Linked DNA regions of Homo sapiens. The gene in region 2 interacts genetically with the main gene of each other region. Each region holds a gene or a part of one and is shown on either strand. Other genes may lie near its edges.

What was found.
Region 1: of TIMP3 (region 2) and AGTR2, extra expression of one is lethal in a mutant of the other (dosage lethality), as found in Homo sapiens cells (one study listed by BioGRID).

Annotation. Positions count from the first base shown.
Region 1 is NC_000023.11:116,165,469-116,174,537, reverse strand, and holds the start of AGTR2 (type-2 angiotensin II receptor), read right to left. Parts: upstream 3,795-9,069; 5' UTR 3,722-3,794; intron 3,571-3,721; 5' UTR 3,511-3,570; intron 2,293-3,510; 5' UTR 2,258-2,292; coding exon 1,166-2,257; 3' UTR 1-1,165. UniProt on the Homo sapiens protein: Receptor for angiotensin II, a vasoconstricting peptide. Signals primarily via a non-canonical G-protein- and beta-arrestin independent pathways. Cooperates with MTUS1 to inhibit ERK2 activation and cell proliferation.
Region 2 is NC_000022.11:32,845,922-32,854,006, reverse strand, and holds part of TIMP3 (metalloproteinase inhibitor 3 precursor), read right to left. Parts: intron 4,556-8,085; coding exon 4,473-4,555; intron 1-4,472.

The DNA of each region.
Region 1 (9,069 bases), on a different chromosome or scaffold from region 2:
CATAGAATCATACAGATTCTGGAACAAACAGTGTTTATAGATATAGGGTAAAACTACCCCCACGGTATATATTTTCAAAGTCACATTGTACTGCCCTGACAGGTTCCTTTCTTGGTACCAAACATGTAATTGACTGGGTCTCTTTGCCCCCACCCAGACCCCATGTAGCAAAATTCCATTCTGGATACCATTTCCTATGCCAGTTAAGGGTTTATTACAAGTTAAAGAGTTTTTTTTAAGCCACCCAGATATTTTAGGAAACAACCCAGAACCAAAGCATTAATAATAAAAATCAAATCAATGTCCTATATATCAAAGCAGCACATCTAAAAAGTCAAGGATGTGAAAAGTGACCTTTACATTTTACAACAATACACAGTGTTTACTGATTTCAAAAAAGTATCAGAGAAAATAGAAACCTTTAAACAATCATTAAAATGAGTAGAAAGTTTTTTAAAAAGTGCTTATTCAGAGTTTAGTGAACACACAAATATTATAGATTGCAATTCTATGTTATAGTACATCTTGCTTTCTATAACTGTAAAAATAAGCTAAAGCATAGGAGTATGATTTAATCTATATTCCTAGCCCTATTCAATATGTAGTTATAGATTAACTATAAACCTCCACTCAAGTGAAATGCAAGAGGAATATAATTTATAGCTTTTTTAAAGAAGCATATGCCTAAAGCCTGAATAATCCAGTACTAATCTATTATAATATACTCAACTTAGAAGTGCTCATCTCTCTTACAATGTTGTCTTGTAAATGATGCAATGAGTTGAAAGACTGGTTCTGGTTCAAGAGGAAATCCTGATAAAAATGGATATAAAACCCCACTAAGAAACACAAGCATGTTTCAAAGAGAAATCTGAATCCCCAAATCATTATTCACAATCTATTATTAATTACAATTTGAGATATATCACCAGTTACTTCTAGGTTGTAAATATGTCTCACTAATGACAATCTTGTACAAACATATCAGAAAAACAATGGGCAATTCCTGAAAGTCACTGGACGATAAAACATAGTTACATTTGGTTTCAGAAGATTCAGAAAAGATTAGGGGAAATTTTATTATTTTATTAAAACCACTTAAAAATAATTCTGGTGAGCCTCAAAGCAAGTAGCCATGTTGATTACATGCATTTTGCTCTCACGTTTAAGACACAAAGGTCTCCATTTCTCTAAGAGAACTGCTTTTCCGGCAAGACATACTCTCTCTTTTCCCTTGGAGCCAAGTAATTGGAACCCTAAACACACTGCGGAGCTTCTGTTGGAACCGGTTTCCAACAAAACAATACAGAAACGGATTAACGCAGCTGTTGGTGAATCCCAAGAGGATGGCAAAAGGAAGTGCCAGGTCAATGACTGCTATAACTTCGCAGCTATTAATGACACCCATCCAGGCCAGAGCATCCAGGAAGGTCAGAACATGGAAGGGAAGCCAGCAAATGATGAAGGCCAGAACAACAGCAGCTGCCATCTTCAGGACTTGGTCACGGGTTATCCTGTTCTTCCCATAGCTATTCGTCTTCAGTAAGTGTTTTCTAATTCCAAAATAGCATGTTGCTATGAATATTAAAGGGATAATAAAACCAAGGATATTTTTCATTAAGGCAATCCCAGCTGACCATTGGGCATATTTCTCAGGTGGGAAAGCCATAATGCAAGCATTCACTCCTAAGTATTCAATGGTTCTGACGTCTCGAAAATAAAATGTTGGCAATGAGGACAAACAGGCCATACACCAAACAAGGGGAACTATATAAGATGCTTGCCAGGGATTTCTTCTTTGAGACAGAAAGGGGTAGATGACAGATTGGTACCTATCAACACTCATGCAGGTGATAAAAAAAATGCTTGCAAACATGTTCAGGGTAAGAAAAGAACCAAAAACTTTGCACATCACAGGTCCAAAGAGCCAGTCATATCTATAAGAATAATAGGTTGCCCATAGAGGAAGAGTAGCCAAAAGGAGTAAATCAGCCACAGCGAGGTTGAAGATGTATATGCTAGAAACCTTTTTAGGACCCTTTTGACAACAAAACAGTGTAACCACGACAATATTGACCAGAAATCCAATTACAAATATAATGTAGTAAAGAATAGGAATTGCATCTAAATGCTTATCTGATGGTTTCTGTGAACAGTTCAAGGTAGACTCATTGTTGCCAGAGATGTTCACAAGCCCGAAGTGAAGACCGCTGGTAATGTTTTTGCTAGTAGTGGCAAGGGTGGAGTTGCCCTTCATATTGAAATGTCAGCAGCTCCTAGTTCTTATGCCTTCTGTGGAGAAAAAACATAGAACTCTTAGAACACATACAGAGCTGAGGACATCCTTGAATCATTAGCATTTTGAATGTTTGTCAAAAGCAAAAAAAAAGTGAGTGATTATAGAAAACATTAAGAAACAGAGCCATGGCTTGTAAAACAAGAATTCATTTTACCTCTTGAAAAAGGAGAAATAATTTTCCTGATAGTAGAAAAAAGACATTTCAGAGATTCAAAGTTCTGAATAAAACTACCTTTTGCCCATCTTTTCTATGATGTTTTTGAAAGATTTAAAGAAAATTAATATTTCAAAAGATTAGTCAGGGCAGGAAATGTGTGAAACAAATAAGAAACCCAGAGGTAAGAAAAGTTAATCTTTCAAAAAACACTTGAGCATATATCTCTGTTTGTATACTTTCTAGAAACCACACTGCTGCTTGCTATTGCATAGAGAAATGCTCTATTTAAGTAACTAATTACATACAAATCACTACAGCTGTGGAAAATATAAGTAACATAAGCAATGGAAAAAATAAGTATATAAAAAACTAAAAGAGAATATGCCAAAGGAACATATTGTGATGGGGAATCATGGTTTGTCTTTAATAATTAAAAATAATTCCTTTAGTTTTACTTTTCTATTGTTTTCACAATAATAATATAGTTAAGAAGAAGTTATGAAATATATTTATATTTCTAAGTCTTCTCCTTTTAATAGAGAATATTAGTTTTAGATATAGATATCTAATTTTGGTCTATTTAATATCTAAACAATCCATTTTCAATTAAATCAGATAAAGAAAAAAACAGCCAAACCTATGTTAGGTTCAAGTAGAAGTAGTTTAGATTGCTCAGTGAAATGAGAAATGAACATCAATGATTAATCATGATATAGTCTTATCATTTTTCTTTTTCTCTCTTTTCGGTTTAACCGAACTGAATAGCCGTTGCTCTCAAACGTTACAGTGTTGAGGTTTTTGTGATTTTTTTCACTAGAAGCATTATTTTAAAACCAAAAAAAAAAACACATTAGCTAAAGATAAGCATACAAAGGAAACACTATTTACTTTAGATAGTTTCAAAATACATGCAAATAAGCTACCCAATTAAAAGTGTAATATCTAAAGAACCTCCTAATAAAGAGCAAAACTTTTATTTTGCTCTAAAGATTTTTCTTTTGACCTAACAAATTAACATAAAAGAATCAATAATAAATTCCACTTGAAGACTTACTGGTTGTTGAAGTTTAAAGCAGTTATCATAAATCAGCTTGCTTAGTGCCTAAACACACTCCTGTAAGAGAAACAGCAGCTAAATAATTCAGGAGTTTTGCAAAATACAGTGTTAAAACACAGGAAAAACAGAAGTTCATCCATAAAAAATATTTTCATTTAATGTATGTTCTACTTTCCAAGTAAATTATATATAAATTGTTCATACTTACCTTCAAAATTCAGGCTGCAGAATGCTTTGAATTCTGTGCTTACTCGTTCTCTCAGACGCTGGGACGTAATAGCACCAGATCTCTGGTTTCCTTCTTATATGTTTGGTCTGTCCACTGGGAGCCTTCAACCTACATAATTCTAGGGCTGACTTATGAACCCTTGCCAGCTTTCCAGAGAGGTTTTTTTTTGTCTGCAAAACATTAATCTGAAATTCTCACTGTCTCCAATCATAACAGCTCATTCAAATAAATCTCAAACAAAAAAAATGAAGTTTCCACAAATGTGCTAGAGAATTTTGAAGTCAGTGGCTTACTTGGTAGGAGAAAAATATAGTAATTATTTACAGAATTTTCTCTTCCTTTTTTCCTGATATTGGCATTCTAATAGAAATTAGTGAGTAGAGACTAGGAAATTTATTATAGTAGCAAAGTCTTTGTTCATCAGCTTTCACAACCTTCATTACTTTCTGAAATTTTTACCCCTGTTTATTAAAGAATGGTAGGAATTTTACTTGAAGTCTACCACTTCTAAAATTTCTCCCTTGCTTTGCGCAGTTTTTGTTGGCTTGTTGCTGGAGGGTTGGAGATTGCAGGAATATAATTTTTACACGACCAAAAAGAGGTTTAGTCTCCTTTCATAGGTCTCTGTCATATTTGTGGTTTAAATACAAAGCACATAAAGTGAAGAGGGATTCGCTAGCTATTTCAACCTAGATCACTGTTGCTGCTGTCTCTTGTGGCAGTGGGGGCAATAAACTACACAACCAATCCAGCAGAAGCAAGAGTGACAAAATGAAGAAAGATAAGAACAGGTGATGGTAGTGATAATACTAGCTGACAATAAATGTTATGTGCCGAACACTGTGATGAGTTATTTATCATCAATAATTTAATAGAGAGGCAATATAGCACACTGGTTAGTAAATAGCCTCTGGGATCCAACTACCTGGCTTTACAAACCCAGCTCTACCACTTACTAATTCTGACCTTGGCCAAGTTACTTTACTTCTTCATGTCTCAGTTTCTCATCTGAGAAAGGAGAATGATATAAATTACCTACATCGTAGAGTAGGAATTTTAAATAAGCTAATGGAAAATTAAATGAGCTAATATGTTTAAAGTGCCTAAAATCATGCCTAGCATATGGTAGGTGCTATTACAAGCTATTCATATTAGCCCCCACTTTACAAATCAGGAAACTAGGACTCATAGAGTTTAATAACTTTTCTGAGATCATACAGCTATTAAATGAAGACACTTGCATTTAAATCAAAGGAAACTAATATCAGAACTCACGCTGTTTAGCCTCTATACCACAAGAGGAAGCACTAGATGGTCCCTTAGTCTCACTCTTTGTCTTGGCAAAAAGGAAACGTGGCATTTACAGAAAATCACTGATGACCATTCATAATCTATCATAAAAGCATCAAAGAAGGGGAAAAGAATTGGAAGAATTGTTATGTGGGGAAACGTATTTTTCTTAATTGTATTGCCCAAATGGAGACCACAGGAAGGAGAAACTTGTGACTAGATGGCTTTCTATAGTTAGTACAGAGAACCAGAGAACCTAGAGCACATTTTAAATGGGCAAAAAGATTCAAGTTATTTCTGTGGATCATATTTTTCAGATAAGCAGCAAGAATGCACCTGTCCATGCTGCAGGCCACAGGTAAAGAATGAGGGCAGGCTCTGAGGAAGTAGCTGGGCACCTAAGTATGGAGTTCAGCAGAACAAGGAAGGAGAAGTCAGTGTTGATGACAGAAGACAAAATTGCAAATGGCATGAGACAAATCACATGGCTTTTGATATCTGTCTGTTTCTCCATTAATATTAAAGTCAATACTGTAGCACACAGGCAGATGAGATCAGTGAGAAGTCATCGTTATGTGAAAAATACAGTAGGATTCAAAGGTTTGCATAGGCCATCATAAAGTTTGTTTGGTAAACAGTTTGAACATTGTCAAAATGCCCCTAATATATGTATGCACCATTTTACTAAATCTCAAAATATTTGTTTCCTATGCTCTGGACAGATTCAGTTGAGGCTGAGGCTCTGTTAAAATGATGGAAAACTTATGTTTCAGAAACAAATGAGGGGGCACATATGTTTATCAGCAGGAAAGCTGAGATGGAAACTGTTTTCACTCATTGTTTAAACCTGGTTTCTCCCTCCATTTCAAATGTTTGTTTTTGCCACATAAAGGGGAAGTTTCCAGGCCAGGGCCTCCCGAGTGGTCACAATGGGTCAGATTCTCACCCTGCTCTTTTTCTTGTACCCTCTTAGGCCCCTTGCAAAGAAACAGCCAGGAGGTGAGCTATAAAATTATGAGAACAAACTACAGGCTTGTCTCCGGAAGACCTAGCCTTGAACACCCACAAGGAACAGGGGACCTTGTCTAGAGCTTTTGTCCTTCATTACAGTAAGTTCTGACATAAATAAAGTTTAAAGAGGTACATATTTCCCAGAAGATTAAAGGGCCATTTACTCTGCGTCTTCATAATCTTAGGAGTAATTTTTTTCACAAGTCAAAGAAAAATTTTGTAACTGCAGAGAATTAACAAAAAGTTTATAAAAAGAATAGCAATAATATTGACACCACTTGAAGAAATACTGTATATTATTGATTCAGCAAAGAACTCCCAGTTAAGCCAACAATGTAAATACACTTGAGAGTCAAATAAGTGTCAGTCCTGGGAAGCAGTACAACACAAAAAGTTCATTCTCCTGGGAGTAGGGAATAATTTTTCTGCTGGTAGACTTACTTAAAAAGTTTCAGGCCATTTGAATAAATTATGCAGCTCTGCAGGACAAGTGTAGCTGAGCTAGCAGAATTAAATAGTAAATCACATTAAATTAATTTTTTTCTAATGAATACCTGTTGTTTATTGTGAGATTACTTAACAGTAAATTTTAAAGGACTAAGCTAAAAAAGTAAATGTTCTTGAGAGAAATTCTTCCTCTGCTAGAAGGTTACAGAGTTCAGAACAAATTTTATTTGCCGCCTCACCTCCACCCACACACACAGATGAAACTTCAAAGGAGAAAAGAAATACATAAATGCAAAAATGCGTAAAAATTCTAGACATAGTGCCCTGGTTATAGAGGTAAAGATTAGAGGTACAGATTACGGAATGATTTTAATATATATGGGTCTTCCTTTTTAATCTAGGTCTCTCAGAGTCATTTTAACTTTCCCCAACCCCAGCCACCACACTGAGTGCCAATATCATTGCCACTTCTCTCAACTTCAACACACACACACACACACACACACACACCATTCATACCCATGTACCCACGTACATACTTTATACCAACTTTTCTTTAATTCACTTACCCATAGAGTAGCCTTGCTTTAATTGTCACTGGACTTTTCCTAACCTGGGGGTCTCTAAAAGGAGGGTAGTTAAGAAGATTGCCCATTATTGATGAATCTTTGCATATTATTTTTGTGCCTGTCTGTGAAATGTCACAATTAAAGCAAATGGAAAAAAAAATAAGGTCTTTTATTCAGAAATAACAATCAGATTGGCCATTTTGTAGAAACCAGCTTAAAATTCAGTGAAATGCCCAACATGAGTGATTATTTTCATCAAACTACCTCTTTGTCTACGCATCACATGAAAAGTGACACAGAGGACTATTAAGTAAGTTAAGGTGAAACTGATGTAGTGAGATGAATGGATGTCAGACTCAGTACATTCTTGAGACCAGCTGCTTCCAGCTGAATCTGGTCCCAAGAACATAAGGAGAAGGGAGAGTTCTAATTTCCCTTTGCCCCAAAGACAGCTTCAGGCCTGAGCACCATGTTCAGACTAGAATCTTGCAAAAGGCACCCTAGTTCTATCCTCAAATGCTATATAACCCAACTGGTGGAAAAAAATTTTAAATGAAAATTATCTATATTTTTGTTTACATTCCAAATATCAGCTAAATGATTTGACATTTCTCCCACTGATATGACTAAATTAAATAGCTTGACTAAATTATCCAAAATTGCCAATTGACTAAATTGGCCAAACCAACAAGCTGTCTTGGAAATATTTAAACACCACTCTTAGGCGATGGGGATGTTTTGGGGGGATGTTTTGGGGAGATGTTGTCAGGTTAGAACTCTCATAGGGCAGTGGATCAACAAATTGTTAAGCTAGAGTTTGGTCCTTGAGCTTTAGGTCTAGATATTGAACTTTCTCAGAATACCCAGGCTCTCAGTGATGGCTCATGTCAATCAAATTATCTCAAAACTGATATAGTACTTTGATTGTTAATTTATTACTTTGCAATAGAGATATACTACTTTCCAGTGACCACAAAGATTGCGTTCCTTATCTGAAGCACCCTCTTCATCTCCATCCCAATATTAGGAAACAAGGTAAATCTGGCTTGGTAACTTTGCAATCAGATCAGGAAAGCTGGTAACTGGGAACCTATTTTGCTTTAGTTTCGGGAAATTTCTGTCAGGGATTATCACTCGGGTTGCCAGATTGATGAGCCCTCCAAGTCATTCTCTCAACAGTTTTGCCTCTCTGAACCCTGTTTTTCTGGTAGTCACCCCATTCTGTTGATACATTATTTGAAATATTACTATTATTGATGAAGCTATAATTAAGTCCCTGTCCAGGTGGCCTAGAAGTAATTCAAGATCTGCTTTGATTGATTGGACAAATTCTCAAAGCTGGAGATTAGAGAGAACAATCCCTCACCAAAGAGACAGGGAAAGAGGCAAAATAATCATCTCTCCAAAACTGACCATCAATTCAGAGCAAATGGTTATTTAGCTTTGTTTAAGGGAGTCATTTACCCCAACCACTTTTCAAGCTCCTAAAAGGATACAAAAACAAAAAAGAGTTGTACAATTTTGGATATTTTTGCTTTTGAGCTGCAAAACAACGTTGTGCACATGTATCCTGAAACTTAAAGTATAATAATAATAAAATTTGAAAAAAAAAGAAGATAGAACAAGATGACAGGAAGTTTGGGGTGGTGTTCTGGGTGGATCTTGAGGTTTTTACTCCAAGGAAATGAAAACAGGAAGTTTATCACTAGGAATTATGAGAGTGCTTGAGCTTTTAGATATTTACCCTACAGATATTTGAATTCGTGGTTTTCAATAAGGATTTGTAAAATGTACAACGGGAAAGCAGAATTTTTACGGTAAATAATTTGCAATACACCCACAAAGAAACTAGCTCATACTTGGGTATCTAGAAGTTGACAGCTTTCTTTACAATTAATTTATTGCATGTTGTTTCAGCAGTAACACTCCTATTTTTTATTGGTTATATTTTATACTGATCACACAACTGAAATTATTCTTCTTTTAATTGTTTTTTTAAACTGAGATATA
Region 2 (8,085 bases):
GATGTTAAAGGTAATCTAATCCAAACCAATGCCATGGAGATCAGTGGTAAATTCAGGTTTTGGAGGCTGACAGCCAGAGTTTGAATCTTCAATCTTCTCTGCCACCTGTGTTCGCCACTTGGAAAGTTACTTAACCTCTTTGGGTCTCAGTTTCTTCATCTGTAAAATGGGTCAAAGCACTTCTTAGGGTGTTTGAGAGAAGCAAATGACTTAGAATAGCAGTCAGCCCACAACATTCAATAAAAGTTAGCTTAGAACAAGTTATACTGAAATTCGTAAGGAGAGGAGGAATGAGTTTGGTCCCCTTTCTCCTAAGTCCCTTCCTCAGCTCTTAACAAGAGTAGTTAAAGCTGGTTTAGAACTTCAGACATAAGTGGGTTGTTCTTTTTCAGCTGGGTTCTGCATGCCTCTGGGCCCCTCTTCTTCTTCTTGGTAGCATCTACACAAAGTTCCAAGATGTTAGCTTCCCTTGGAGTGAAGGGACAAATAAAGTAAAAAAGAAGTTTCTGAGTCTGGGGACATTTGCATATTTCTTATGAAATGTCTGGCCTTCACTCTACATTGACAGCATGAGTTGCCTCAATGATTCCAACTATGTCTTGCATGCCTACCAAAGATCAACACTGTTCTGGATGCTGGTGTACATCACGGACTCATTTAAACCCACAAATTCTTATTTACAGACCGACCGAGCTATCACGGCCATGATCTTTCTCTATACAGCAATTTGTCTAGCAGGACAGGCAGAGAATGTAGAAATGGAGCCAGTCTCTGCAGAGGGCTGGATGAGAGTCCTAAGGCAGGAAGAACCACGGGCATTGCAAGAAGAATGGTTCCCTGTGGGCTGGGGGTCAAAGATGCTTCCAGCTAGAGCTTCAAAGGCGAGACCCTGCTATTGCTCATTTGGTTAGACAAACCACTAAAGGAAGGAAGTCCCTGGAGGTCTGCTCTGCCTACAGTCAGGACATGCAAAGCACATGACCAGCGGGTCTCCCCATGGGACCCTCCCAGGACCAGCTGGGACATAATGTCCCCCACGTTCTGTCCCCTGCAGCCAGCTGGAGAGCATGTCTCCGCTACATAAACAATAACTCCTGGCACAGTGGATCGGTTTCTCATGGTCCTGATGGGAGATAAGGTCCCCACAGCTTAGAGCAGCCAGTTCTGGAAACTTTCACCTTCACCCCACAGCCCAGCTAATTTCCAAGTTTGGGATTGCAATAAGCTCTCTCAACATTCTAACACCCTGCTCCCTCACACACACACACATATCGCAGGTCTCTGTGTACTGAAGTGTTCCTGAGAGATGGGTCAGAGGCTCCAGAGTTAGCAGACGGGAGAAGGTCTGCCTGCCTTCCATCAGTGAGAGAAGAGAGAGGTCAGACAGGGCGGCTCGGAGTCTCAGGTTCTCCAAGTTCCTTTAGTCCTGCTCTAAGGAAGCCCTTGCTCACCCCTTCTGACTCTCTAGGGTAGACTGTCTAATCTGCTAGAACAAAGTCTCCCAGGGACCAGTGCCAAAACTCATGCAGGCTTGCCTCTCTGGCCTCTCTCTCTTCCCTCCTACAAAGATTTTTCTGATACACCCTTTGCAGGATATTACAAGTCCAGCCCTACACTGCTGGATGATAAACCAACAAACCCAAACTGACCTCTTTTTGTTCCCTGGGAACTAAAAACATATGGAGTGGGCATTTATATACCCCAAAGTGGGTAGGAATGATGAATCAGCCTGCTGCTCCATACTGTATTATCTCCTTATAGGCAAAGACCCTGTAGTTTTGCTCAGGTTTGCCACTTTGTGGCCATATAATCTTAACAGTTATATGACCTCCCAGGTCTCAGTTGCCTCACCTGTCAAACAGAGGACAAGGTGTTATCTATTTTACAGTGTTAGTATAAGTACTGATCTATGCAAAGACCTAGCAGAATGCCTGGCACTAAGCAATTGCTCAGTAAATGTTAACTGATGCCAAGTCTTATCATAATTATAAGCAGTGTTATCTTTGTATCCCCAGTTCATAGTACAGTACTAAGCACAGAGAGAGGGTGGGAAGGAAGCACGAGAGGATGGATGGACGGACTATTACTTCTAGCCTGTATCTTGTCTGACTTGCAGGCTGGTACCTAGAGACAAGCAGATTCCAGTGGTGTCTCTGGATAGAAGGGCACTGACCAGTTCTATGGATCATGATACCCTCTATGGAGGGTCAGAGTGAATGAAAGGCATGAGATGGTGACTGATGATTAAGATGGCAGGGAGATTTGGGAGTCATATAAAGAACACAGGATTGGGAAGAAATTCCGATGCCTCAGCTTGGGGATCAGATCTGCCCTTAGTTAAATGCTTGACTCTGAGTAAGTCATTTCCCCTTTGCGCCTCTGTCAGAAGTAAGACGAGGGATCCTACATCTAATTCCCAGCACCATGATTCATGAGCTCAGGCGAAGGATGGTGAACCGAAAGCCTAAGCCCACCAGTCTGGGAGTGGGAGTGTGTCTTCTAAGCCCACCAGCCTGGGAGTGGGAGTGTCTGATGCTGATAGGCTAGCAAGTGTTGTTTGGTCTCTAAACAACCACCCGTGGCTGGTCTGACACCAGCAAGGGGGAATGGGACATTATGTCCACAGGAAGGGCCTCTGGTCACCCTGGTCTCCAGGCCCTGATGGTAGGAAGGAAACCAGGCAGGCTTAGGAACTGCTGCCTCCCAGCTATTTCCCTCTCAGCTCTCTGCTGACCACCGAGTGTCTCGTAATGAGGATTGTTCCAGACCAGGCAGGTTCGTGTGTTTTCTGAACCTCTGCTTTGGTCTAATATGCTTTGGCATTCCCGCGCTGTCTGCCAGAGGTTGCAAAGTGGGCTTTTTGCGTTGTTGTTGCTCTTGCTGGTTCCCCACCCCTGCCCATTTTTCTCTCCCCAGGGCTGTCTGAAGACATAAGCTGGTCTCATGACCAAGCTTAGGCAGCCAAGGGCAACTGGCCAGGGCTGACTCTGGACATTACATAACCAGAAGGCTGTGGATGTTTGCAAAATTGAATCCAAAGCAACAGGTTCCACAAAATTAGTACATCCAGCCTCAGGACACAGGAATAAGAAAGCCTGGAGGTTGGCCTTGGGGATGGTTGGGTACCACCGTGGGCTGCGTCACTCCTCCACTCCCTTCTACCTGGACATTGCGGCTTGTCTCCTCTGGGGAGTTTCCAGGCCTGTGGGGTCTCACCCTCATGCCCGTATTAGACAGATAAGCATTCACCAAGTCACTTTTGCATGCCAGGTCCTACCCTAATTGCTAGGGATGCAAATATGAGCAATAAGTTAAAGGGCTGGACAGTTCCTGTGGACCTCAGCACACCCCACATTGAACTTCTGATGAGTCACACACATACCTGCCTCTTCTCTCCCAACCTGACTCTAGTTCCTAAAGATGGAAACTGTATCTCCCTCACGGCCTCCCTGGCTCCTAGCTGGGAGCTCTGCATGTAGAGAGGTGCTTACAAAGATGGGGTGATGAACCAGTTGCTGAGTTATTCAAGGTGAAGCCCCAGTCTTCTGTGCTAAGGCAATCACCAGTACACCCTTCCATTGTATACCACCCGCTCCTCCTTACAAGTAACATGGCCCGCATCCCAGGGTGCTTAGAATGCCTGAGCTAGAGAGGATGTTAGGAGCACCAAGCCCAACCCCACACTGTTAACAGGTGGCAAAACTGCGGCCCAGGAAAAGGGACAAGCCCAAGGTAAGCAGGCTATTTAGGAGTAGAGGTGAGACTAGGAGGCAGGTTCTCTAGATTTCAAATCTGGTGTTCTTTTTCTTAAGGGCATACCTCCTTCCTGTACTTCATGATGTTCATATCCTCAGTAATATGTTTAATGATAAGAATATGCTTAGCAAACATTGCTAACTATCTAGGATGCAAGAAGACAATCAGCTGGGAAAATAGGGAAAGAAGGTGAAGTTCCTGCCTTGGGATGAGGTTCCTGTGATCAGCACAGTTTCCATGTAAAGATTTGAGGGCTGTAAACCTAAGCTGTAACCTCAGTGGCTGCATGAAACCTGTAAGCACTGTTGAGTCCCAGATAGTCAGAGCTCAGAAGAGTTCATAGAGATGATCTAGTCCAACCCCCTCATTTCACAATTGGGAAGATTAAAGCCCAGAGAGGGGCAGTGACTTGACCAAGGTCTCATGGTTACGAGCTAACAAGGCTATCTGCCATCTGGCTCCAGAGCTCAGCTTCCTAACAAGTGCCTTGGAGTGACTCCACCTGCATGGGCTCTTGGACAAGGCAGCCCCATGCCCCCTCCCTACCCATCCCTTTATGCAGCCTTAGCAGCTCCCTCTCCAGCAGGCAGAAGGGCTGGGTCTGGCTGGTGCTTAGACACACACCCCAGTTCCAACCCACTTTGCCTCCCTTAGCCAGGACTCTTCTGGCAAAAACCCAAAAACCTTCCCGGAGCCAGGGTGATGACATTACCTACCTTCATCTGCTTGATGGTGTAGACCAGCGTGCCGAAGGGCCCCTCCTTTACCAGCTTCTTCCCCACCACCTTGGCCCGGATCACTGCAGAGACAGAAGGAGACAATAAGAGGTTAGGAAGGCCTGAACCACATCAGGAACAGCATCTCAGGGCGGGCACGCTAGCCTCTGTGGAGCCTGGAATTGCACTCTTACCTTGGAGCCAACTGGAATAGATGATTGTGTTTACAAGAGTGGGAATTCCCTGGGGTGAGAGGGAGGTTGGAGGAAAAAGAAACAGCCACCATTCAAGTTAATTACCCCAAATATTCACAATTGCCAGCTCCAGAACTTCCAAGGCTATAGTCAACCCCCGCCGACCCTGAGGATTTTCTTGACTTTGTGACTTTACCATAATCCAAAACCTACTTCTCCTGTTAGAGCCATTGTCCCCCCTCCCTTGTCCATCTGACAATGCCATGGTCTCCCAGATCTGTTCTCTTTCCACTAGGACCCCTTTCTAACCACCTCATTTGGGGCTCTTCCTTTGCATGCATTAATTCACCACATCTTGACATGTCTACAGGGTTGTGGTGCACCCTAGCTTCCCACAGTGCCCCCAGTTAGCATTCTGATTGAGCCCTTGGTATCCAGTGCTTAGATAGCAAGGGATGCAATAGAGTCTGAGCTCTATGGGGATGTGGTTAGAAGAAGGAGCAATTGGGAGTCGGGGCTCAGGAGCCAGACAGAACTGTTCCAATCTCAGCTCTGCTGTTTATGGCTATTGCGACTGTATGCAAGTAAGTAACTTTGTTTCTGGCCTCCTCTTCTATAAAACAGGAATCATAATGATACTAATCTCTTGAACTGAAGGGATTAGTCAAGATGACAAATGTGAAACTCTTGATACTGTCTTGGACATAGTTTGCACTAGACAAATATTATTAATATCATCATCATTATCATCACCAAAAATGAAATGGGCTAACCATGGAAGGGCTGTTCCAATGAAAACAGCTCCCATTTATTGCACACCTACTATGTGCCATGTACATTTCACTTATTTACTGCTCTTAACTGTCTTACAAGGGCAGTATTAGCATCCACATGATCTAGATAAGGTAACAGACCAAGAAGTGAAACCACTTCCTCTTTCTGAGCCTCAATTTTCTCATCTATAAAGAGGGTATAACTCTCTTTACATCAGGGAATTGGAATCAGGATTGAACGAAAGATCTTATGAAATTTCCCACTACAATGTCTGGCAGAAAGGATTTACCCAGTAGATACTAGTTAACTATGAATACAAAAGTAATTACACCCAGTGGGTTGAGGGCTGAAAGAGAGGCATTTACCACATGCACTGGGAACAGAAAGAGGAGAGGACTTGACTTTTAGATTCTACAAGGTTGTGCTTCTCTTTCTACGTTGTGTGAAAAAGAAGCACCCAAGAGCTGTCTTCAGGTATTTGTAAAATTGGCACATGGAGGAGCAAATGGACAGGTCTTGAATACCAAAACTGGAAATTGCAGAGAGTAACATTCATTGGCTCAACCAAAGAAAAAAATCGTCTAATAATAAGAACCAGCAACAAAAGGCAGGGGGGCTGCCATTAGGGCAGAGAGTGCCTCTATCAGGGGGTGTGATGAGGGTGCTGGATACTTCCATGCTAAGACCTCAACAGGAATTGGAATGGGGCTTGCTTATGCAGTCATACTTTGAATTACAAATTGAACTCCTTCAGCCCTGAGATCCTATCAATCTTTCTTATCTCAAGTTGCACTTAGCCCAAAAAGGAGTAGATACTCAATAAATGCTTGTTAAGTAAAATACCCTTCACACACACAAACACAAACACACACACACACATTTTGGTAGCTCCATTATCCTTCCTCATTGTGGATGCTCCACTATGTATCCCAGTTATTTGACTCTAATCTCTGTTTTTAAAAAATCTTTACTAAGAACTGATTCCTCATCCATACTGGATTCTGTCTTGTTTCTTTCCAAATGAGCTTGGATCCTACCCTTGCAGTCAGACATGAAGTCAGGGTTCAGATGAATCAATGGCCCCTTCAGACCTTCCCTGCCGGCGATGGCAAAACACACAGTCATTGGCAAAGTGAGCAATTTAGCGGAGGCAGCTCAAATTAGGAGGAGGCGAGTGGTTGTTTCCAAGTCTGCTGTAAAAACGAGAGGTTGGCAAGATCCCAGGCCAATGTCTGTCAAGATCCTGCATCCACCTCTGTTTCTAACATTGCGGTAGTATTCTCGGCGACAAGCCAGCCTCCCGGAGGCCCCGGGGACTGTTTCCTCCATATTAACTCTCACAGGCAGGTTATAACAGCTTCACCTCCGTGCAGAGGCATGTCTGCCAGCCTTTACCACTGATTCTTCCTGAAATGATTTGGACCCATCTTCTCTGCCTCATTAACACAGAAGGTAAACAAGGGAGCGAGTCTTGGCCGGGGGGTGTGGGAGGGGCAAGGCAAAAGGGATTCCTTTAAATAGCAACATCCTGGTTCAAAAATGGCTTGACTTGATTTAGACAGAAGATGTCACAAGCAGACCTGCCCCATAAAGCTGAGTACTGCTGGAAGCTTCTGCACATACAACCAGCCAACTCCTTCCTTACCCCAAATAGCCTGAGCTTGGAACCTTTTCATCTGAGGATAGTTCAGTGAAAAGAATACGTTTTTGTAGTCAGGAAGCTGCATTGAAGTTTGGGTTCCACCATTACTGTATGATCTCTCTGGGGCTCTTTCCTCCTGAATCTCTCTGGCTTTCTTAGCCCAGTGCCTCTCATGTGGCTAACAAGTGATTTGCTTATTACTATTGGAGCAGCAACATAGCATTGCATTAAAGAGCCTGGTCTCTGGAGCCTGAGAGCCAGGGTTCAAATCCCAGCCCTGGTGCTGGGTGACCTTCAGGAAGTTGCTAAACCTCTCTATGCCTTGGTTTCCCAATCTGTAAGATGGGAATGATGAAACAATGCCTCATAAAGTTGCTGTGAGGGTCGTATTAATATAAGCGCTGAGAACAGTATGTAGTCCATCCCAAACCTCATGTGTTTGCTACCACTGTTATTAGCATTATCACCACTATGGTGATGTCTATTTTTATTCCATCTTAGGGCATACCATCTTCAGACTTCTAACATGCACTGTAAGCTAAGGCCTGGGAGTTCTCCCTAGGATGAGAAGAAAGGCAACCTCATAAAAATATTCTAGCCTTACAGAACTTCAGGGAGAGGTGGAGAAGCACAGATGAAGTAGTCAGAACAAGTATAGGAGGTATTTTGGGATCAGGAGTGCCTACTCTATCACATGTACCCATCCCACCTTATCACCCATGTGTAACCCAAGAATTGCCTACTAAGACCAGCCAAACAAGATCACAGTCATGGTTCCAAAAGTCTGAGGCAGAGATGGCCCAGTGAAGAGGCCACATCAGTGTTTTCCTTACAAAAACAAAACTTCACTAAACTGAACTAAAATTAAGTTACATTCTGCCCTCCAAATAGATTCTCAAAGTCCTTCCAAAGTAGAATTGCTGGCCAACCCCAGATCCACCTATTTGGTTTGTGCATTAATCTGTCCGTATTTGCTCCAGTTTCTCCTCTGTAATTCAAATGT